Homo sapiens: one gene and its partner. The protein of the gene in region 1 purifies or fractionates together with the protein of each later gene. This does not show direct contact. Each region holds a gene or a part of one and is shown on either strand. Other genes may lie near its edges.

Evidence for each region. The genes of interacting proteins can lie anywhere in the genome.
Region 2: the proteins of AP3S2 (region 1) and AP3B1 purify together in Homo sapiens (affinity purification with western blotting; one study listed by BioGRID). This does not show direct contact.

The regions. Positions count from the first base shown.
Region 1 is NC_000015.10:89,838,495-89,841,994, forward strand, and holds part of AP3S2 (AP-3 complex subunit sigma-2), read right to left. Parts: intron 851-3,500; exon of another isoform or gene 1-850. UniProt on the Homo sapiens protein: Part of the AP-3 complex, an adaptor-related complex which is not clathrin-associated. The complex is associated with the Golgi region as well as more peripheral structures.
Region 2 is NC_000005.10:78,221,699-78,225,198, forward strand, and holds part of AP3B1 (AP-3 complex subunit beta-1), read right to left. Parts: intron 1-3,500. UniProt on the Homo sapiens protein: Subunit of non-clathrin- and clathrin-associated adaptor protein complex 3 (AP-3) that plays a role in protein sorting in the late-Golgi/trans-Golgi network (TGN) and/or endosomes.

The sequences.
Region 1 (3,500 bases):
AACTACTGTACCCCTTTGTGGTAGGAAAGCTGTCACAGAAAGCCCTGGGTGGGTCAAAGCAGAGATGCCCACTGTGGTTCATAAGGAATGGTACTCCATATTTCAAACCAAATCACATCAAATGGCCCTCAAGGTGCTTTCGGTCAAGTTGGGAAGACAGCAAGTACAACCTTCTATTGTTAACTAAGTGCCAAATGACTGGGATAGTCCTGGGGAAGTCAGAGAAGAAAGGGTACAGTGGCTAGAGAGATCAGAGAGCTTCACAGAGACAGTGGGAGGATGGAAGCTGGGCTCTGACATTAGAGAGGTAGGGGAAAGAATTTCAGGTAGAAGATGTTGGAAGGAGCAATTCAGCTGGTGTATGGGCAGGTATGGGGAGCTCCTGGGTCTGGCTGGGATGGCAACTTTCTTTATGCAGGAGAGAGGCTAAGACAAGGCTGAGAAGGTAATTTGGGTCTGGAGCAGGGCTTCTCAGCCTAGGTACTAGTGACATCTGGGACCAGATAATCCTCTGCTGTGGGGCTGTCCTGTCACTGTGGCCTGTTCTCTAGCATCCCTGGTCTCTACTCCTCCAGCTTGACAATCAAAAATGTCTCCAGAATTGTCATATGTGTTCCAGGGGGCAAATTCACCCCAGCTGAGAACCACTGGTCCAGAGTCTAGAGTCAACCACCAGTTTACTCTGTCAGCAATGCAGAGTCAAGAAGAAAGATGTGTCTGCATATCTGGGCACTGTGCACTTCTGACATCTGAAGTTCTCTGGCATTGGCTCCCTGTATTTTGCCCTCAGTAAGTGCAGGGAACTTCTGATCTTGAGGACAGAGTATAATAAATCAAATGTATTCCCTTGCGTGTGTGCCCACATTGAGCTTTATTAACCACTGTTCTGTCTACACACACGCACACACACACTCTCACGAGGTGTTCTTACATTTTATACAATATGAATTATTCATTAGCTATATGCAAATGAAGATTTAATGGTAAAAGTCTCATATTTAGATAATTTACAAAATGTTAAACAAGACTGGTTTTAAAATTATTCCCTGGGGGAATTCCACTGTTTATACTTCCCCATCAAGAAATAGGCCTCTGAAAACAGTATGGTGGTTCCTCAAAAAGATTAAAAACAGAATTACCATATGGCCCAGCAATTCCACTTTTGGATATACACTCAAAAGAACTGAAAGTAAAGACTTGAAGAGAATGTGTACACCCATGTTCATAGCAGTATTATTCACAACAGCCAAAAGGTGGAAGCAGCCCAAGTGTCCATGAACAGACGACTGGATCAACAAAATGTGCCATAGAAATACAACAGAATATTATTCAGCCTTAAAAAGGAAAAGAATTCTTTTTTTTTTTTTCATCTGAATTGAGATGCTGTAAAAGGGAAGGGAATTCTGAGACACAATGTAACACGGATGAACCTTGAAGATACTATAAGTGAAACAACCCACACACAAAAGGATGAGGACTGTGTGATTCCACTCCTGTGAGGTACCCAGAGTAGTCAAATTCAGAGACAGAAACTGGAACGGGGGCTGCCATGAGGCAGGGGGAAGAGGACAGTGGTGGCTATTGTTTAATGTGTACAGAGGTGCTGTTTTGCAAGATGAAGAGCTCTGGAGACGGATGGTGGTGGCGACTGCACAACAATGTGGATATACTTAATGCCACAGAACTGTAAGCTTAAAAATGGTGAAGACAGGAAACTATATGTTACATATTTTACCACAATTTAACAAAAAAGGAGAGAAATAGTCCTCTATACCTGCACTTTCAGTATTTATTCCTTTTATTTAGCCAATCCCTGTGTGGGTAGAAAGTAGTACTTGTTGAGTATCTATTATGAACCAAGTACTTTATGTAACTTACCTTAATTTTACAACATTCATCTAAGGTAGGTAATATAATCTTCACTTTATTATTATTATTACTATTATTATTTGAGGCTGAGTCTCACTCTGTCACCCAGGCTGGAGTACAGTGGTGTGAACTTGGCTCACTGCAACCTCCGCCTCCTGGGTTCAAGCGATTCTCCCAACTCAGCCTCCTGAGTAGCTGGGATTACAGGCACCCGCCACCATGCCCAGCTAATTTTTATATTTTTAGTAGAGTCGGGGTTTCCTCATGTTGGCCAGGCTGGTCTGGAACTCCTGACCTCAGATGATCCCCCTGCCTTGGCCTCCCAAAGTGCTGAGATTACAGGCGTGAGCCACCACGCCTGGCCTGACTTCACTTTATATATGAAGAAATTGATACATTTTATATATGAGGAAAAGGCAATAAAATGATCCCAATGTCATGTATATTAGCAGCAGAATGGTGCTGATTCCGGAGCTCATGTTCTACCCTTTATATCATACTTCCTCAGAATCCCAAACTATGTCTTCCACTCTATTCATCCCTGACCCCTAGTCCACATGAAATCATTTAAGACTTGTCTTTGGTGTGTCAATATCTTGTATTAATTCTTCCATGCTTTATCTCCAAGGCCTAGAACAACGCTCAGAGTAGGCATGCTAAATGAATGAAAGGCTTTCCATATATCTAAGTAGCATATTCCTTGGGCTTTAGGGACTTCGAAGATAGACAACAGTGTGGTGGTGGGGGCTTTCTGGAGAAGGTATAGTAAAAGGCCTAACACATGATGTCGTGGAGACTAGTGGCTGGTTAACAGAAAAAGTCAGTTAAAACTTCTTATTTAACACTGCATCATAAAGTCAGCATTTTCAAATGCTGTTCAAAATATGTTCCAAATGCAAAAAGAAGAAATAAAAATGCAAACTCCATTTTTGTTATAACTACAGGATATCCAAAATTCCAAACCCCCAAACAGGTGAAAAAGCTGTCAAAAGCAGGGAGCTCAGGCAGGGACTCCTTTGCTTCACAGAAGAAAAAGAAGAAAGGATGCTACAGGGAGAGGACAGGGAAGCTGGTGATCTCAGAAAGATCTGCAAAAATATGTACTTCCTGTGGGTAAAGGACACACTCCAGCACCAAATTAATTCCTTGTTTTTGGAAGGCAGGAACTTCCTTGGACCTGAAGTTGAGGCTAAATGAGAAATCACGCAAGCTACATTTGCCTCACAGAGGTGGTGTCTGTGGTAGTAGAGAAGACATCCTTTGCATTGTGGAGATGCTAAGAGACGCCTTGCCTATCTCGATTGGCTGGCTAGAGACTAAGGGTAAACGGACTCACCCAGAACCCTAAATCAAGGGAACAACTGTAGCTAGCCCAGAACAGAGTTTTGGTAGCTCCTCCAACAAACATCCTGCAAAACAGCTGGTCCCTGAAAAACTTGCCTATTTAAAGATAAGTATACAAAAAATCTAAACAGGATCTATATAAATATACAACGAGAAAAAATTAGGAAAGAAATAGGAAAACCAAATGGCAGACTAAGACCACAGACTGGAAAAGGGCCTCCATGGACTAGATACAATGGTAATAAAATATTTTACACAAAGAAAAAAAGAAAACTTGATAAAATAGT
Region 2 (3,500 bases), on another chromosome or scaffold:
AGATCCAATGTGCATAAAATAGGAATCCCTGAAAAAGAAAAAAAATAACAGAATTAATATTTAAAATTATAATCTTAAAAAAAAACACTTTGCCAGAGATAATAAAAATTCTGAATCTACATTTTGAAAGGACTCACTGAGTACCAAGGCAAAACAATTGACCCATATCAAGTAATCCTGAAGTACCTTGCAAAAGTACTATATTTCAAAGATAAAATCTTCAGGGCCAGCATCTTTCTTAATGCAAACACAATGTAAGCATTTCCTTTAGACTGAAACAAGGCAAGAATGCCCACCATCTCCACTACTATTGAACACAACTGTAGTGATGGCACTAAACAATATAATTAGGCAAGAGAAATTAGAGTTCTAGGAACTGAAAAAGAGGAAGTAAAACATCTCTATTTGCAGATATGATTCATTCTCTAAAAAAAAAAAGAGAGAGAGATTTAGGCTGCTTGCTTCTGCCTCAGAGTTGGTGCTGTCATGGCCAGTCAGTCTCAGGGGATCCAGTAGCTGCTGCAGGTTGCTGAAAAGGGTGTCTGAGACCTGCAGTGAAAGAACCGGAGGGAGAAGCAGGCCAAAGCAGCAGTTCAAGGTGAAATTGAACAATATTGCCTGCAGAGGGAGAAAGAGTTCAAGGCCAAGGAGGCTGCTGCCCTGCGATCCCAAGGCAGCTGCAGCATTAAAGTAGAGGAGACCCAGGAGAAGAGAACCATCTGGAAGCAGTTTAGGCAGAAGAGGGGTGAAGTCTTGGCCTTTTTCTGCAATATCTGGTAGTCCATTCCTGCTAGTGGTTAGAACAATGAACACTAGTATAATTGTTTGGGCCAGTTTTAGTTACTTAATCAAAGAGGACAGAATTCAAGAACTTGTTACATGTTACTACTTGGTGTACTGATAATCATTTAAAAGTAAAGACTCTTTGTCATGCAAAAAAAAACCCAAGGAGGATGAATGAGAAAATTAACTCAAACAATAGAAGAATTCAGTAAAAAAGCAGAATATAAAATTTATCACTCAAAAAAAATCAATAGCTTTCTTACATACCAACACAACGAGTTCAAAGATATAAATAGTTGAAGCAATTTTGATTTACCATACATTAAAAAAAAGATTAAAGACAAAAACAACTCTAAACTAATATTTAACTCTAATTAAATATTTAACTCTAATTATTAGGCCCCATGCTACTGTATACCCCACAGAGGTACAGTGCTAGCAATTCTGAAGCAATAGTTTCTCTGCATTCTGAGACTCAGCAAAAATGTAAACAGATTGTGGAAATAGGAGCCCTGTTTCTTGTTTTTTTGTTTGTTTGTTTGTTTCTTTTTTTTTTTTTGTAGAGACAAGGTTTCACCATGTTGCCCAGGATGGTCTCGAACTCCTGGACTCAAGCAATCCATCCACCTTGGCCTCCCAAAGTGCTAGGATTACAGGCATGAACAATGGTGCGTGGCCAGAGCCACATTTCTTAATGTTGAATAGGCAGTTTCAAATATAAAAAGGAAGGAGGCTGGAAGGAACTCTGTGCTATACCACCAGAATTACAGGTGTCAGTAAAAACTTTGTTTTTTACTATAGACAGAAAAAGAAATATGTATTCTTAATTAAAAAAAATAAACATATAGTATATAACACTTTAGGAAAAATGAGTGCCTCACAAAGGGTAGGCCACCAAAGCCCCCAAAGAATCTACCTATGAACACTGAGCATGAAACCACTGCAGGGGGGTGAGGGAGACATTAAAAACGATACTACACACTTAATTACTATCACCAAGAATGTAACAAATTAATTCAACAGTCATTCAACAAATATTAAATACCTGTGATGAACAAGTATTCAATATTTTTTACTTTCTGGTGTATTTTGGAAACAGACATTCCAATTTTACACAGATATTGTATCTTTACATCTTTTTGAGTACTTATTTCTTATTTGGAATTTTTAATCACATCCCATGTGGTGTTAGGCACTGTGCTGAGGGTTTTATATACAATAGTTCTTTCTCTCGACACAAACAGCAAATTTATAAATTAGATATTATAAACCCTACAAATCTGGAGCCTAAAACTCATAAAGAATTGGTACATATACTATGTGGCAGACGCTCAGACATTAAGCCAGTTCTATCTGATTCAAACGCTATTGTTTTTACCTATGATATGCTGTATCCTGTCTGGGAAGACATGCACATATTATACAGAGAGAGTTCATTCCCAGGCCATCCAAAGAATTTCTCTTAGTCTATAATGTAGCAGAAATGATGGTAAAACTCATTAAAATGACAGATCTGCTTCTTGTAGATCTTACTACTCTCCATGGTACTTAGCCAATCTCTTGCACTTATAATAGAAAAGCACTAAGTATTTTTTTAAATTATTAAAATCAAGTTAACCATAATATTAATAATATTGACTTCATATCTGGCAGATAGCATGCCTGTCATACAGAAGACAAAAAGGAATCAAATTTCTTTTCTCTATCTTCATTTATAATCAATCTATATTTAGTTACCTCCTACGTTATACCAACTATGCATAGAAGAAATGCAATAATGATTTCTGGTACACTACAGACTAACAGAAATTTACTAAATGGTCTAGGAATGAAACTACAAGTATAATCTCCATGTATAAGACAATATTTTCAAAAATATATAGTAAAAAAACCATGAAAAGAATTAAAATGTTCACTAGAACATATTCACTTAATCTAAGAAAAAGCAATAAAGGAGAAATAAGGAACAAAAAAGGCATGAAACATATAAAAGCAAGTAAAATGACAGCTTAAAATCCAACTATATTAATAACAACAATAAGTGTGAATGGATTAAACATTCCAATTAAAGGCACACATTGGCAAACTGGATAAAAAGACAAGAGCCAACTATATGCTGTCTATGGAGACATACAATAGATGCAAAAATATAAACAGGCTGAAAGTAAAAGGATGGAAAAAGATATATAATGGAAACAGCAACCATAAAAAAGCTAGAATAGTAGTATTTATAACAGGCAAAACAGACATTAAAACAAAAAAATGTTACTAGAGATAAAGAGGAACATTTTACAATGACAAAAGGAAGATTAAAAAAATTATAAACATACATGCACCAAACATCCAATCTCCTAAATAGATGAAGCAAACACTAACAGAATTAAAGAGACTTCAATACCCTGTTTTCAATAATGAATAGAACAAGTAGGCATAAGATCAGCAAAGTAGAAGATTTGAACAACACTAAAAAACAGATATCTATAGAACACTCCACTCAACAACAGCAGAATACACATTCTAATCAAATGTTTATTGAACATTATCCAGGATAGATCAAATGCTAAGCCATAAACCAATAGTTACAGCTACACAGGGCTACTGCCTACTGTATTAGATAGCTGCCATGCATAGATAGTACATACTCCCTGATGATAGCATCCTAAGATGAGCTGGAATCCTTTTCCTCAGTAGTTTTGAGAAATATAAAGTGGGTACAA